Regions from separate parts of the Homo sapiens genome. Here region 1 is linked to region 2. The links come from fine-mapping of genetic effects on gene expression. A gene starts in region 2. The other region holds a variant in brackets. All regions are shown on one strand. Distances are between the middles of the regions. Region 1 overlaps SEMA3A (semaphorin 3A). Region 2 holds the start of SEMA3A (semaphorin 3A).

Evidence for each region. PIP is the estimated chance that this variant, and not a neighbour inherited with it, causes the effect.
Region 1: its variant is the best candidate, but not a certain one, in a credible set for the expression of SEMA3A in sigmoid colon (GTEx, PIP 0.76).

Annotation. Positions count from the first base shown.
Region 1 is chr7:83,950,073-83,958,803 of GRCh38, forward strand. SEMA3A (semaphorin 3A) reads right to left here. Exons shown (of 17, transcript NM_006080.3): 17 at 5,705-8,731. Among named protein-coding and RNA genes, the nearest start is that of SEMA3A, 240 kb to the right of the region's middle. The variant A/C (reference allele first, on the strand shown) is at 3,572.
Region 2 is chr7:84,191,140-84,199,870 of GRCh38, forward strand. It overlaps SEMA3A (semaphorin 3A), which reads right to left and starts at 3,650. Exons shown (of 17, transcript NM_006080.3): 1 at 3,336-3,650. The coding sequence starts at 3,447. RefSeq lists an enhancer at 3,764-4,571.

The DNA.
Region 1 (8,731 bases), 240 kb before region 2:
ATTATCTATAAAGTAATACCATTACATTGCAATGCACTGACTCTCTGAAGGATGTTGTCAGCTGGATAAAAATATTTCTGTAGTTGAGGTGTTGCATATTCTTTTCTTACCAATTTTTTTTATAAGGGATGCATTACTTTTGAAAAGCTAAATAGGGGCCAGGTGCAGTGGCTCATGCCTATAATCACAACACTTTGGGAGGCCGAGGCCGGCGGATCACTTGAGTGAAGGAGTTAGAGACCAGCCTGGCCAACATGGTGAAACCCCATTTCTACAAAAACTACAAAAATGAGCTGGGCATGTGGTGGCATTGTCTGTAGTTCCAGCTATTCGTGAGGCTGAGATGGGAGGATCACCAGAGCCCGGGGAGGTTGAGGCTGCAGTCAGCCATGATGGCGCCACTGCACTCCAGCCTGGGTGACAGACCCTGTCTCAATAATAATAATAATAGTAATAATAATAAGAAGAAGAACAAGGAGAAGAAGAAGAAAAGCAGAATAGTAGAAATAGTAGGAGTAGAAATTCTCCTACCCCCAATTTACCCTATATCATTGCTGAGTAAATATTACTTAGAACACAAATACTTTCTAATGACTTTCATCACGGCAACTCTGAAATATTTAATATTTTCATCAGCACACTAAGTAATTTTAACCTGATGTTTTAGGGCCCTTACATCTTAGTATCTGATCCTCACCCCTAAGGCCAGCAAACCTTGGAAGCAGGTAAGCCTTCTTAGAACTCAGACAGGAGAAAGCCTGAGTGGAGCCACTGGGCCAGTGAAATCCTGACAAATCATTGGGTAAGAACACTCCAAATTTGTGCCCCTGAAAGAGTGAGATACAAATTTGTATGAATCACTCAATTAAGCAGTGGTTTCCAACCTTTTGGCATCAGGGACTGGTTTTGTGGAAGACAGTTTTTCCACAGACGGGGGTGTTGGGAATGATTTCGGGATGAAACTCTTCCACCTCAGATCATCAGGCATTAGTTAGGTTCCAACAGTGAGCACCCAACCTGGATCCCTGGCATCCACAGTTCTCAGCAGGGTCCATGCTCCTATGAGAATCCAGTGCCACTGCTAATCTGACAGGAGATGGAGCTCAGGTGGTAATGCTGGCTCCTCCATCACTCACCTCCTACTGTGTGGCCCATTCCTAACAGGCCATGGACTGGTACCACACTGTGGCCTGGGAGTTAAAAGCACTGGGCTCAAGCATTGTTGTGCACACAAATCACCTGCGAATTGACTAAAATGTTGATTTTGATTCTGTAGGTCTCGTGTGGGTCTTATGTATCCGTATTTCTCATGAACTCCCAGGTGACAGAAATGTCCATATTCCACACTTTGGTCACATGTTTTGAGTATGCTGGACTTAGTGGATGGTTACCCATGTTAGACAATCTAAAGAGAGATCAATAGCACATAAGATTAGGATCTGCATAAGGATAAAAAAGGAACAAGACAGTAACCCAAGCATTTGCACTGTTAATAAAAGAGATGATATCTTTGTTCTTTTTATGCTGTTACTTCCTTTTAAAATCAATGCATTTTCTTTCCTTGCTTTTTTGAGCCCCTATTCTCTCTTTCAACCCTCCCAGCATTGAGATTTTTCTGGCTCATTATGTCTTCATTTTCTAAAGTTTTTGAGCACTTTCCAATTCAATCTCCTAATATTGTATTAAATATTTTAGCATCATGTGACTAATAAATGAAAGTTGAGTATATAAACTGAACTGTGTTGTATTCAATGAAAGACATTTAAACATAAGACGACTGCTAAGAAGCACTCAGAAATTTAGATATGCCTAGAACTAGATATGTATAAATGGTGCATCTGTACTCAATGCATAAAAGAAATCTTAGTTCAAATTTTATCTGAAAATTATACTCAGTGCTATCTACCATGACTATATTTATACACACTTAGTATAGCCTATTGGGTTTTTTAATTAATTCTCTTTCAAGTTATGGACAGTATAAAATATTTGTGTACAGGCCTTACCCTTTTTCTCCCTTCCAGATTGTCTAAACTCTAATGTATACAATTGTCTTTTCTGGGGGCCAGCCCAAATGGTCTCTTGAAGTTACTATGAACAAAATGATTGTACTTCAAAGCCTGCACTTTTGTTTCATCTTTTTGTGCTGCTTTTTATCAATTTCCAAAATAGTTAAAGCTTAAAGACGACAATACTTCAAACAAAAGCAATTATTTAAAAAAGATTACCAAATAATTGAAGCCAATCAGTGTTCACACATTTGGAACTTTTGGAACTTTTATCCTTTCCTACCAGACCTTGAAGTCCATCAGATTTTGCTGAGGCCTTTATATTAGTGAACATCTGGATCATGTCATAGTTTGGTTTTATTTTTGCCTAACAGTTTCTTTGTGGATTTGCCTCCCACAACACATATGGTTTATTTCTTATGTTTATCCCTAGCTTGGCAGGGTTTTGAGGTGTCACGTCTCTTTTCATCTCTACTTTTTAAAGGGAATGATTTTGCATAAATTATCATCTTTTTAGGTGTGAATTATGGTAGTGGTCTTTTCATGTGTTCTTTAGAGACCATGAATAAATGCCTCTGCTCACATTGTCTTCCTGTGAATTATATATTATTACAATACATAGAATTTTTTCAGCAATATATATTTTTTAAGTTTGATTTTATTTTTGAAAGTTCATCAGCACTTGCAATTGCTTAGACTGTGTCTCAAACCTTTTCATATATGAAAACACGCTTAATATCATATAGTTTATTTCATTGAGTCTATATAAAAATAATCATTTTGTCTTCTGGAAGACATTTTATTAGGTAATGCATAGAAAACTGTCTCCTTTTCGAGCTGGAAAATGCTAACTTTGAAAACTGTATATTAAAAGAATTAAACAGGTGATTACTTAGTAAAAAATAATTGGCCGGGCGCGGTGGCTCACGCCTGTAATCCCAGCACTTTGGGAGGCCGAGGCGGGCAGATCACGAGGTCAGGAGATCGAGACCATCATGGCTAACACGGTGAACCCCCGTCTCTACTAAAAATACAAAAAATTAGCCCGGCGTGGTGGCGGGCACCTGTAGTCCCAGCTACTCGGGAGTCTGAGGCAGGAGAATGGCGCGAACCCGGGAGGCGGAGCTTACAGTAAGCCAAGATCTTGCCACTGCACTCCAGCCTGGGCGACAGAGTGAGACTCCATCTCAAAAAAAAAAAAAAAAAATTGACTAATTTACTCTAAAATGCATTCTTAGAGATCATGATGGCAGACAGTAGCCCCAAAATTTGCAATGAAAAGTTAACATGGTTGGAAATTAAAAGTGCTGATATCTTAATGTAGTGTTTTTTTAGAGAATAAAAAGTCAAACATCTGTTATCTTTGATTAGGAGTCATTTAGAATTTCTTTTGCAAATTTTTATGGGCAAAGGTAAGATGTAGAAAAGTGCTCACATGAAAGACATGGCCAAGGGAGATTATTGCTATTTTGTACAACTACTACTTTAAAATGGGAAGCAAGAGAAATTAATGACAGAAAGTAGAGGGCTAAAGATCTACAGAAGGTGGTAATAGATATAAT[A/C]AAAAACATTTTATTTGGAAATGAGAAAGAACATCATGTTCTCATCATTATCAGGACGGAAATCAAGAAAAGTGAGTAAATAATTAGTGTTAGCAGTAAACATTATATGTCAATGTTAACTATTACCCCAATTCTGTGAATACGTTTTCTATCATTTATCTCATATAGATGGAAGAACTGATATATTAAAATCTTATACAGGGGAGAACTGAGGCCCAGAGAAGTAGAAATAAATCAATACTCAAAGACACCACTAAGTACATGGGTATAGCAGGTATTCAACCCAGGTTTGCAGGTCTCCAAAACCTGTTTTTAACTGTGCTGCTGATTTCCTATTTGATTGTCTCTCCTCTCTTAGTGAAAGAGATGTTCCCTTATTTCTAGGTCAACTCATTCACCATTCTCTTCTTCATTTTCTAAGAGTCTTTGACATCCTTTTTCTCTATTTCCATACAGCATGGCATCTTAAATTATATTTACATTAACTAGTTATCTTTCTGGAAACACAGGTAATCGTAAATCATACTTGAATTAGAACTTTATGTCTATCGCTTTTGATCATGTGAATTGAGCAGTTAGTTATTCAACCACTCTGTACTTCAGTTTCTTTATTGATATAATAAGGATAAAATAGGATTTTTTGAGTTGTTTTAATAATTAAAGTAATACAAATAAAGCACTTGATAAAGAAAACAGTATGTTGTAAACACTTGATATTACTATCATTACTAATATGACTACTACGACTATTACTATATCCATTGTATGACACATCATGTTAAATGTTGTGTTTCCTGTTCTTCAATAGATTGTGAGTTTCTCAAAGTCAAAGGCTAATTCTCACTCACCATAGAAAACTCAAGTACAGTATGTTGTGCCAGATCCTCAGGCTGTGTGTCCTACTTCATATGAAAAGGCCCACGTGATATCATAAAAATATTTAGACTATAATATCTAAAAACACAATTAATATAAAAATACGTAGTGAATATAATATCTAAAAACACAATGAATATAAAAAATGTAACGTTACTAGCACCAGGCAGTAACTTTAGCAGTTTAGGATGTATTAATGCTTCCATACGTCTGCTTATGTTTTTATTTAATATTATATTATTGAATTAAAATTAATACAGTGCAGTGTATTACAAAGAGTTTCTGCTTTGGGCTTATTGATATACATTTTATAAATTATATAAATATTTCCTTCTAGAAGTTCAAGAATATTACTTCTCAATAATGAATATAGAGCTTCCTGATATGACATAATTTTTAGAAACATTGTCTCAGGACCAAGAGGAGATTAGAAGAAGAAGACCAGTATGGTCACAGTTGCAAATTACATTCCAATCTTCACTGAGGGGAAGAGGACATGCTACCTTTTGAATGATAAGTGATTTTGCCATCTAGAGTACTTGTTGATTTTTTGTTTGTTTGTTTTTGTTTTGGATTCTAGAGGGGTCAGGAAGTTAAAGAAGAAACCCAAACAATGTAATGTTTCTAAAGTTAATGACTAATGACTACATAATTGTTTTGATCAAAATAGAATAATCCTGGGATAAGTATTCTCTTATGTTTTGAGTAAATATTTAAAGAATTCAATAAACTCCTTGACAGTATTCTTTTCCATATGGATAACAGATTATTTTTGTGATGCTAATATTCATTGGGTAATAATTCAAACCACTTCTGAAGGCAAATACAATAAAAATAATTTCAACAGGCATGCTATTAGGGTCAAAAGTTCTGCAAGGAAGAAAATGAGCAATGATTCTGAAATTAGTAGATGGCAACAATGCAAATTGGATACTTAGCTAGACCATTATTCATCAGTATCTAAATTTAAATGGAATATATTGAATGGCATACACAGACCCAGACTTAAACTGAGTTTTTCACATTTATCAGCAATTTAAAATACTGCATGAGTAAAATACAAATATTTGAGGGCTAATAAAACTGTCAATCTTTTTTGAAGGATGAAAATCCCTAAAAATTGTGGTGTATTTAAAAAATTCCTGATGTGGCTGTTTGATTTTAGATGAAAACTTTGTCTAAAAATGTTTAAGCTTCTCTGGAATTAGTTATCAACAAAACAAACAAAACATTAAGAACTGAGCTACACAAATGACATGGATATTTTACAAATGTATTTACTTGAGATCTAATGCTTCAGTGAGATTTACAAAGAGAGAAGACGGAAGTTGAGCCTTCACATTACCTGAATTGTGATGACATGAACACATCTATAAAAACTTTTGCTTAGGTCCTATATAAATAAACATTGTATATACAAGTATAGTGTTTAGATTAAAAGAAAGAAAATCCATTCTTTTGTTATATGAGAAAAACATGACAGATTAATACAACGGTGGTGCGGGGTTGACATATTCAAGATGAAGGTGGGTCTCATTTTTTAAAAAACTTTTTTGGTTTGTTTGTTTAAAATAATAGGAGTCTGCCTATCAACTACATGTGCTGACCACACCTGCAGCATTGCTTGGCCATGAATTACTCCATCTAAGGTATGCCTTGAACAAATGCAGACTTCACATTTTAATGCTATCTTTGCTGAAGTCTTGTTTGTGAGCCACCTTGCTTTTTAGCAAGGCAATGTTGGAACTCATTGCTGAGTAGTCTAATGCTAGCTGAGTGAGGTAAGGCTGTAGGTAGGTGAAATGTAACAGAAACTTTCGTTTGAACTGAGAGCATAGGGGAGTGTCTGATGAAGTTAGCTTCCTCTAAATATTTATTTGTAGAATTCAGAGTTTCAGCTGACCTGTGCTGGTTTGAACTAGAGGAGAGATTATGAAATACAGATGAGTTTGAAGACGGTTGTGGGAACACTGTCTAGTGCTATGACTTTAGCTGAGTAAAGATAAATGAGGTGAACATTAAGAAGGAAGGTAAAGAGATTGTGGGGTGGAAGTGTAGGAGGCTGAATGTGTGACATATGACAGTCTGTGCCAAGGATGCGAATGTGGGGTACAAACAGAGGGCAATAAATCAAAACCCAGGAAAAAGCAAATGCACCATTTTGACTCATAGTAGTGGGACATTTAACTTTTCTTTATGAAACCTGTGTTTTATCTGTTTGAATGCTTGTTCTCAGAAAAAGGACTTTTTTTCACACCTCTCCTCCTTTCTCCTTATTTCTTCTACTCAGATTGCCATTTTGTTTCTTCATCTAGGCATATCTGACTGATTCACAGCTGGAAAGTCACTTATTCTCTGAAGCACCCCATGATCTCTCTCCACAAGTTAATTCCTCCTTTTTTTTTTCTTTGATCCATACCGCTCTTATTGTGAGCTTGTATTTGGCAATTGTCATATCGTAACTTGGTTCTTTTCAACAGTGATTTATTGGGCTCCCTCTTTGTGCCAGGCATCATGCTAGACACTGGGGACAGAGATCAATTAGATACAAATCCTGCCCTCAAGGAGCTCACAGTCTAGAAATGGAGATGGAAACATAAACAAATAAATCACACATTGGGGTAGTGTGACAATAAAAGGTATATACAAGGCACAGGTTTAGCATAGAGAAGGTCCCTAGCTTGAACTAGGGATGGGAGGATTAGGAAAGACTTGCTGGATTAGATGATGATAAGTCATCTCGCTCTGTTTCCTTAATTTCATTGTGAGCTCTTTGAGAACAAGGGTTATGTCTTATTCACTTTAGTGTCCTCATCACCTAACATAATACCTAGCACATTGTAGATAGTCAAGATCTATCAGTGGAATTTACTTGAACGTGTAGGAAGCTGGTTCTAAAAGGCAAAGTGTCTAGAGGCCCAGTTTTTTAATATTCAAAATCTTCTTTTTGTTTGGTTTGGTTCCAGCTTTGCCTCTGCCTGTGTGTGCCTGCATGTTTGAAATGATAACAAAGCTGTTTTCCTTGGTTACGTTGATTGCGAAACTGTCCTTACTATATGGGCTGTCACATATGCTGATTTTATTCTCTCTTTCATTTAGATATTTTCTTAATTTATTAACTTGAAAAATTATGTTCATTTAATTAACTAGTTTAAGAAAATTTTTAGAGATCAAACAAACTAATGAGATTTTACAGATTTTTGAAAAATAATGTTTTCTTCTTTATGGAAACATGTATTTGCAAACATTAACATTGACTTCAAATAATTATTACAAATCAAGTTAAAAGTATAGATGTCCTTGGTGTTAGACCAGTTTAACATGTTATTACACGATACGGGGGTGTTGAATCCTATTTAAGTCTGTCTTTGAAACCATGAAACCTGATACAGTTTCATTAAATTGAATGGAAATTGTGTTTTAAAATGAGCTAATAAAACAAAGATTTTAACATATTATACTAGTGGCTCCATATTAATAAAATGCTTGTCTGTGACCTTTAAGATAAGCAATTTCAATAACAGTCATCTGACATCTTTGTGGATCCTGAATAAAACCAAACTGATTATGAAAATGACACATTATAAAAATTTATCCCTACATTTCCTTTTTAGGTATGACATTAAAAAGAACAATACTTAATTTAAAGGGCATAAAAATTCACATCATCACCATAAATATAGAACCCAGTTTACAGATGACTACAATGAAGAAATCTGTTAGCTAATTATGTAGCAACCTGACTCTGGTTCTCAACATTTTATGAGCTTATGTTCCTTAACACCATATGTTATAGGGAACAGTAAAGACATCTGAATTCAAATATTTTGAAGAAATGTGTATTTAGCAAGTGAATACATGCTAAAAGGAATAATTTACAGCAGCAGTTTCATTACATTTTTCTCTCCAGTTTTTCTAGTTCCCATCTGAAATGCAATGATAAGTAAAGATATGGAACATATTTCCTACCTGGCAAAAAACATGCTTATTGAACGGGCACGCACCTTCCGCCCTTAAATAGTACATAAACCACCTTGTCACCTGCGTGGGAAAATCTTGCCTTTTAGGATGATGTTGAACACATTGAAATGGAGTACTTATAGAAAGTTTTATTTTACACTGTTCTTCCTCTTTTTCTCCCAAATTATTTACATCTTTTTTTTGCCTAATGTGTAGGTAGCAAAAATATTAAACACATACCACTGCAAATTACTAAATAATACATAAAATGAAGTGTGCATTTACATGCATTTACATTTTACATTTGATATCAACTGGGCCATA
Region 2 (8,731 bases):
ATAAAATGATCTTCTCTTGTCACACATATACATATGAGAATTTTTATTTAATTGATAACCTCATTCTTATAATAATACCTTGACTCTGAAAAAAAAAAAAAACAACTTTAGAAAATAGAAAAAAGAAAGCTTTCAGAAGGCCTACCACTTTTTAAAGTGCTATTTACTAAGTCCTTCCTATGAAGTTAAGGTTAAAATCATTGATTTAACCTTTGGATTCACAGGATCACCATCACATTGAGACTTGCATGTGTCTTTGATTTCTACCAAAACTGAAGCACATAGTGTCCTGGAATAGCCCCTTACATTGGATGATGGAATATTTGTCATTTGTTTAAAACCCAAACCCTAATTATTTTCTTGTGATTCATGCAGGTTTTTCTGAAGACTTCATTGTATCACATATCCCAAATGGAAGATTATATGATTTTCCTGTATTTCATGAGAAAAGTGAAATTTGACTAGTTTTGTAGAAGAAATAAACATTTATGCATGGACCACTTTTTAAAAGAAGGATTTTACCATTTAGCTATATTACATATATTTAAAGAAGACAAAAGTATTTCTGAGTAAATGTTTCTTAAGGATAATTTCTATGTAACTGCTGAGATTTACAGAGTTCTCACATTTTCTTCCCCCATAAGGATTCTAAATCAAATTGGTTCAGAGGAAAAGCCAGCATACCCCATTTTTCTAATATTATCACTTCTCCAGATGGTCCTGAACACATCTATTCAATTCCTTTTTCCTAGAAAGTAAAGAGGTATCTTATTAGATATGTACACCCGCTACAAAGGCCACTTTCCTGTTTTTACTTCTTTTTAACATGTCAAGTCTCTTTCATCTCCTACCAGGCAAAAATGATAAGTAGAAAGTAAGCACAGTGATTGCCAGAAACTTCATCTTGGCAACCTGAGCAATGAGAGAGTTAATGGTGGATCTTTGAAAACAAGTGACCATGGGAAATTAAGGTTGGCAGGGATTTAACTCTTCATGAATCATGCTGGAATATTTTTAAGGGCAATGCAGTGGATGTTTTAACTGTGTTTGACATCTAATTAAGGAGAAACAAGAAGTAGCTTTAAAAAAATCTCTATTGTACTTTAGAAACAAAGTACTGGCAATTGGCTACCACATACTTGCTTTGGCCAAACAAACGTACATGTAGAGACAAAAAGGTAATGACAGATTAATAAAATAACAGAAAAAAATTTCCTCAGGCCATTCCTTTTATTCTTCTTCCTGTTGTTCATTTCACAGTTTATTTTACCAAATTATTAAGCTCTAGGTGTATCAATGGGATTGTTATGTAGCTGTAAAGCAGTTTTTTACTTAAAGGAAAGCAGAATAATTCTAATGGATGCCATCACTAAAACAAGGCTTATAAAGACAATATCAAATATATACACCTTGCTAATATATACTGCTTGCTTCATCAGATAGGTTTAAGGCATATGTGTACAACAAAGGATATTCAAATTAAATGTAATATTTTTAATGTACAGAAAGAACAAGTGCCTCCTCTATCATGGAGAGTAACCTATTATCATGGAAATAAAATTCTTGCAAAATAAAAAAGTTTAATTCCCTATTTTTATTTTATTTTAAAATGAATTTAGCACTTAGATATATTCAAGCCTAGCAGATTTTTAAAATATATATCATGATTTTAAACTTGTTAAACTAAAAGTATTACAAATAGCCAGTCACATCTTTGAGAACTAAAGTTGCATGTAAAACTTATAGGGAACATAAACTTGGATAAAGTGGACCATCAACTTAGACTTATTTGATGTCACCTTGTCAAGGAGTGAAAACAGAAAGCAAAACTGATAAAAACACAGACACCATAATATCATATACTATGGAAATAATTTAAAGACAGTTACTAAATTAATTAAATAACGCTACATGATTTTTTAAAACTTACATAAGTACAATTGCACTTCTGTTTGTTGATGTTTAAGTCTCTATTCCCAACTTGATACTCAGGAAAACATTACACCAAAAAGTAAATAGATATTCTAATTCAATGCATTTCATTTAACGAGCACTAAGTCCAAAGAAACACATTACTAGGTGTTTAATTTTCTAATTCAAAGTGTGAAAATTACATCTCTCTTCTGATTTGAGATCCTCATTCACACTAGGGCATTCAGAAAAAGATGTTCCCCATCATATGAGAATTAAAGAATATGTTTTGTGGCATAAGAGCAAGGTACAGTAGACAGACATCTCTACAAATACCTTCAATAATTTTTATTTTAACTTATAGGCTAAAAAATAAGCTTAATTAGAGCTTCTCACTGCTCCACCCCCAATTTTAGAAATCTGAGAATCATAAGAAATCAACACCTTAGGGAGTAAAACTACTTGAGTTAAAACAGTTTAATCTTCAACTCCATTTTAATAATACCTGAGTTATAGAAAGATTTACTGCCACTAAATGTATGTATATCATTTTGGGCTCTACTTTAGCATTACTTTACACATCATCTATCTATAAGACCTATCTAAGCAAATGTGGAACAAACATAAAAAATCCTCAATAAAAATAAGCACATACATTAAATTGTAACCAAATAAAGCACTAGTGATAAAGCTCTTTTTTCTCTCTTTAATTTATACTTTTCAAAAGAGAAGTTTACACAACTACCTATGCAAGCAGACAGTAATGTGTCTGCAGTTCTCACTGAAGTACATATAGAATTAAATAACATAATATTTCAAAGACTTTAGCTTTACACAATTAGCCAAATACAGTCTTTTGTACAATCATAAGGCACTGTGGAAAAACTAGTCTGTTCCATCCAGTTTATGTTCTCTTGGCAAACCATGATCTACTGCTTATGTTAAGCATCTGATTGTCAGATTTGAACAAACTGAATATTCATGATGACGATTAACCATTTCATGTCTAAAACTAAGAAAATGCAATTCATCATAGTAATTATAGGTAAGGCATGCACATCTACAAAGAGACCATTTTTGCATTTCTATTTTTAAGAAAATATTTTAATAGAATTAAAGTCGGAAAAATTAACAGGCATAAGATAGGATAATAAGATATACAGATCAGCGTGTACCAGGCATACAGCTCTTTTCAGCAAATGTGATTAAATGTTCTTTGTTTGCATTTAAGTTGTCATATATCAAACAGAAGACATGCTTTTTACAAAAAGCGTTTAAAGCATCTCAGAAAGATACACATAATCACGTCGGTTTACCAGGTTAAACTAAAGGTTTGATGATTTGGGGTTGGGAGGGAGTTCAAGGAATTAAGGGGGGGGGCGGTTATTACAAAGCTAACCAAATAAAAGAAAAATAAGATTTACCTTTGTAGGATAATTTCAGCCTTGGCACATTGTTCTTCCCATTCTGATAGTTTGCTCTTGCTGTAAGTAATACTCCCCAGAAAAGACAGACAATCCTAGTTAACCAGCCCATGCTGCAGACGCTGTAGGTCCCTTTGCTGCTTTAGTCTTCCTTCCTGTATTGTGCGGCCAGAGAAGTTCAAACAATCTGGAAACTGGAGGTAACAGGTGATTTAGGTCAGTTTCATTCATAAATGCAGACAATCAAGACCTCATGGCAACACTAACACCTCTTCTTCTGTAACAGTCACTGAAGCACAGAAACTTCAAACCCTCCAAAAAGAAAAAAAAAAAAAAAAATTCCGAGCCAGGCACCGGATAATGAGGCACAACTGTTGTGTGGAAAGAAAAAAAAAAAAAATTAACAAGGTCTGCTGCAGTGGTGCTTAAGAAGCAGTTCCTTTTATCTAAGCTCCTCTGATAGCCGGTGGCAGTCTCTAATCCTGCTCCCTGCTTCATTCGGCTCCGGGGAAGCAGAATGAAAGGGAAACAGAGAGAGAGAGAGAGAGAAAGAGAGAGAGAGAGAGAGAGAGAGAGAGAAACCGTGAGCAGCGCGGACTTTTCCTGTACGCATGTAGAGGGAGATGACACAAGATCCCACAGACAGGTTTCCCCAACACTCACTAGACTGGCTGACAATGGGAGAACAGGCGAGCTCAACCTACTCCCCTTCCCTCCTGTCACACAACACATGCAAAAAACATCTCGTAGAGATTAGAGCCGGGAGCAGAACCCTCAGGCGTGCCTGTGAAAGGCATGTAGCTATAAATTTACTTCCCAAGGCAAGCGTTGTTTTATAGCCATTTTTGGGTGCAATTTTGATTTTAAAAATCTGAATTCTGCTACCTACAAAATTTACAATTCATGCTCATTATACAATCCTGCTGAACTTGTGCATTGTATGTGTGCGTGTGTGTGTGTGTGTGTGTGTGTGTGTCTATATATCCTCATCAATACAACTTTAACCACTGAAGGTTTTAAAGCCTTGTTAGAGATCATTCCCTCCTCCCAACAAACCCCCTGGGCTCAACCACCCCCTTCCTCTGTCCCACTGCAATTTCAGGGAAGAAATTCCTACTAAAGCCCATTCCAACAATCAGTTCAAGACAAATATAGGTCCTTTGAGAATTATAAATTACAACGGGGGATTCTCAAAAGGATACTCAGAATTTAAAAACGTCTATGGTTTTCCAGCTTCTGGAATGCTCTGGCTAACATTTTCAATGCATCACATCTCATTAATTAAAGACACTTCCCTAGTTTTGGTTTAAAGGGCAGCGGAAGATGACAAAGTTCACAAAAGTCCCTGCTGAGTGTCAAGGAGTAACATGAAAAGAATATCTCTGTGTCTTCATGAGCTGCTGAAGGGTTACTAAATTTTCTGTGGGACGTATAGGCATGTATTCAGGCAGTCATATGAACACCATTAGTTCCTTCTGAAACAAGTAGTTGGCTGTGGCCTCTCAATTTTCTCTCTTATTTTTCATTCAGTTTTCCTCAAAGCTGATATTTTTACAAGAATCTTTAGGGGATGTATAAAAAAGTTAACAGGACAGAACTTTCTCTCCTTTATTCCCCAAATGATTCTGCCCTACCCCCTCCTACCACCACTCCCCACCCCCCACCTCCAGAACAGCACTTGGAATCCAGAGACTCAACTTCAATAGTAGGGAAACTTCTTGGCTGAAGGGAGAGAGTGAGTCTCACAATTAAAAACATAAACACCTACTGAAAGTGGCTTAGTATTCTTAAGAAAATGATCTAAGCATTGTCACTACAGCTTTCATTACTTAATGTCCACAGACCAATAGAGAAAGCACAGCGCTCGCTCGCTCTGCTTTCTCTCTCTCTCTCTCTCTCTCTCTCTCTGTCTCTCCCTCTCTGCCGTTGGATGTGTGGCTTGTGTGAATGTAGGTGGAGAAGGAGGAAGAGGAGGATTTAAAGAGGGGGAGAATGGGGAAAAGGGAGTAGGAATTCTCTCTCTACTTCACTAGATTGACTCATCAAACAGATCTTATTGTATTTGTCAGTTTCCTCAAGCCTATTGATCAGCCAGTATTGTTAAGAAAATAAAATCCAAAAATAATGTTGATTTTACTGATTCCCACACTTGTTATACTAGGCACTTTCACGCTCTAGGCAATGGATTAAGGCTACAAATGACAAGAGGCTTGTCTGTCTTCCATGGATTACTCTCTATAGACATTCATTCTGCAGAGGAATTCATGTCGCTTTGGGATTATTTCAAGGATTGGACTAATGAATTATCCTATTGAAATCTCACATATAATTAGTTTAAATGCTTTAAGTAGTTTTACCATTTTCATTAGTATATATTTTATATGTCTTAAAATATATTTATATTTTTACTCTTGTTTTCTAGAATAGAAGAGCAAGTTTTTGTCAAAACTAAACAGGATAATAAAATTTATAAGTGTATCCATTTCACCTGTGTAATGTCTAATCCTAAAACATTTTTATATGCTCCAAATAAAACAAAAGGCTGTAAGTAAATTTAGATAAAAGAGGGTCAAAAATGGCTCCATGGGGGAAGAAAAACATAAAATCTGGATTTTGAACCACAAAATCAGGACAAAGTTATTTCATTTCATAAAATGAATAATTTAAATTAATGTTGACACATGGAAGTTGGTAGCACAGACACCTCCATATACACACGATTTTTTATAAACTATGATATGATTATTTATATTTGATATTTTTCTTATCCTCCAAATTATTTATGATCTTCCTGTTTTTCCAGATGTTTAAAAGTTTCATAGGTTTGCATTTATATTTGCTTTTCTGCAGATTTTTTATTTAAGAAATGTAAAAATAGTATATTCTTCAGGCAAACTAACTGTCCTAGACTGATTAAATTATAAAATACTAGAAATGTCTGGCCACACACAGATAATTCAAATGTTAAATAAAAAATGAAAGAAGAAAGTAAATGCCTGAAAAACACTCACAAAAGCATTTGGAATATTATATTTCTACTGCCTTCTCATTCGACTTTGCTCAGAGTTGAATAAAATTGTTTAACTTTTTTTTTCTTAATATCCCCAAATACCTGAGGATAATCAAACTTCAACTTATTTCTCAACTAAAGTAGAAGCAAGGTATGGGTGGACCTGGATGGGCGGTGTCAGAATCTATCGGAATCTGGCTGCATGTGTACAATGCAGATTTTAATCCACTCCTCCAAAGATCACTCTTTTTTTTTTTTTTTTTTTTTTTTTTTGAGACGGAGTCTCGCTCCGTCCCCCAGGCTGGAGTGCAGTGGCGCGATCTCGGCTTACTGCAACCTCGGCCTCCCGGGTTCAAGTAATTCTCCCGTCTCAGCCTCCCGAGTAGCTGGGACTACAGGCACACGCCGCCACGCCCAGCTAATTTTTTGTATTTTAGTAGAGACGGAGTTTCACCGTGTTGCCCAGGCTGTTCTCAAACTCCTGAACTCAGGCAATCTGCCGGCCTCCGCCTCCCATAGTGGTAGGATTACAGGCGTGAGCCCCCGAGCCCGGCCAGATCACTCCTTACTCTGAGAATCTGTGGCCTAAATTCTGAAATTAGAAAACTTACTGTATTTGACACCATACACCATAACCATTGATTTTATTTTACTGTATCACTTACTACTTTTTAAAAGTCACAAATATTATATTGGCCTTTTTTTATTTTTTTATTTTATTTTTTGTGGAGACGGAGTTTTGCTCTTGTTGCCCAGGCTGGAGTGCAGTGGCACGATCTCGACTCACCGCAACCTCCACCTCCTGGTTTCAAGTAATTCTCCTGCCTCAGCCTCCCGAGTAGCTGGGATTACAGGCAACTGCCACCACAGCCAGCTAATTGTATTTTTAGTAGAGACAGGGTTTCACCATGTTGGTCAGGCTGGCCAGGTTGGTCTCAAACTCCTGAACTCAAATGATCCACCCACCTCAGCCTCCCAAAGTGCTGGGATTACAGGCATGAGCCACTGTGCCCGGCCTTATATTGGCCTTTTAACATTGAATTTTATTTAAGGTATAAGTGAAATATTCTTATTTATTTCTTCCTCTAAGTAGCCTATTTTCAATTATTTTCTAACCCACAATTTACATAGTGTACTATATGTAACTGTATTTGTAATTGAGTGTCTAATATGTTCTAACAATTCGAGCTTTCAAATATGATTAACTCCTGCCGTGGAGTTACATTTCAGCAGGTGCTTAATAGGATGATCATGCTGTTGTATACTTTTCTGTCAAATAGATCAGTAGTTTTTAACCTCACCTCCCTCTGTACTGGGAAAGAGTGCTAAAATTTTTGACAGTGGCAACTTTCTGGATGGTGTGCTTGATTTTCTAGAGGATCAACACTTCCCATTTCACAACAGGTTAGTTAACTTGTTTTTCAGTAAAGACCTCTGTAGTCATAGAAGATACGTATTAAAGTATTTACACATTGGCTATGTATTTTTTATCTTTTCAGGTATTGGATGAAACCAATGTGTCTAATTTTAAAATGTTCCCTCTCTATATTTTGCTATTATTGAAACAAATTTGGATAATAATAAACACTGTAATTTAAGAGCAGCGCTGTTTCCTAATTTGTGAGATAGCCGTCTAAGTACTTTCCTTGGTTATACATACCCTGAATCTCTCTGTGAATGGTTAGGTAGAAATACTAGCTGTATTTGTCCAGAAAAGAATATAAGGAGAAATTGTGTTTTAGATGTATTTCAAAGATTTAGTGGACAAAATGTACCTGAAGTTAGGATGCACTTGATTAAATAACCTCACCTCTTTCTGCAAATCACCTTCCATACCCATTTCATTGTGATCAGATACAGGAAATCCCCAAAAGTGTGCCACCCTCAGAAGCAGATGACCTCTTTAAAGGAAATTACTAAGTTGGGAATTTTTAAATGAGTTAGTTAATCTGTTCTTCTAAGAAATAACACCAAAGAGGAAACCAGTACTAAAAACACAAATTTTAGTATTCTTGGCAAGGTGTTTTTCAATTGAGACATGTAAAAAACATATTGTTTCTCAATCAACATCTGTTATTTCCGTTTTTTTTTTTCTTCAAGGAACGCTTCATTAGTATTTGAGAAAGGCTTACAATCAACAGAATTTCAGCAAATGTCATACTCAAACATTTGCCTTGCTCTGACTTCTGATGTTGGAAATTCATTTTTAATGAAGGTTTTTCTATACAAGAAATTTGAACCTTTCTTTTTTCTAAAAAAGAATTCTGTGGGTGAAAAAATTCTTTAGACGATCAGAAGACACTCTATTAATTGGAGAAAATAAATAGTTGATGTATTATTCATTCTAGCCAAAAATGATAGTGATTTAGGAACTACTGTAGTTGTT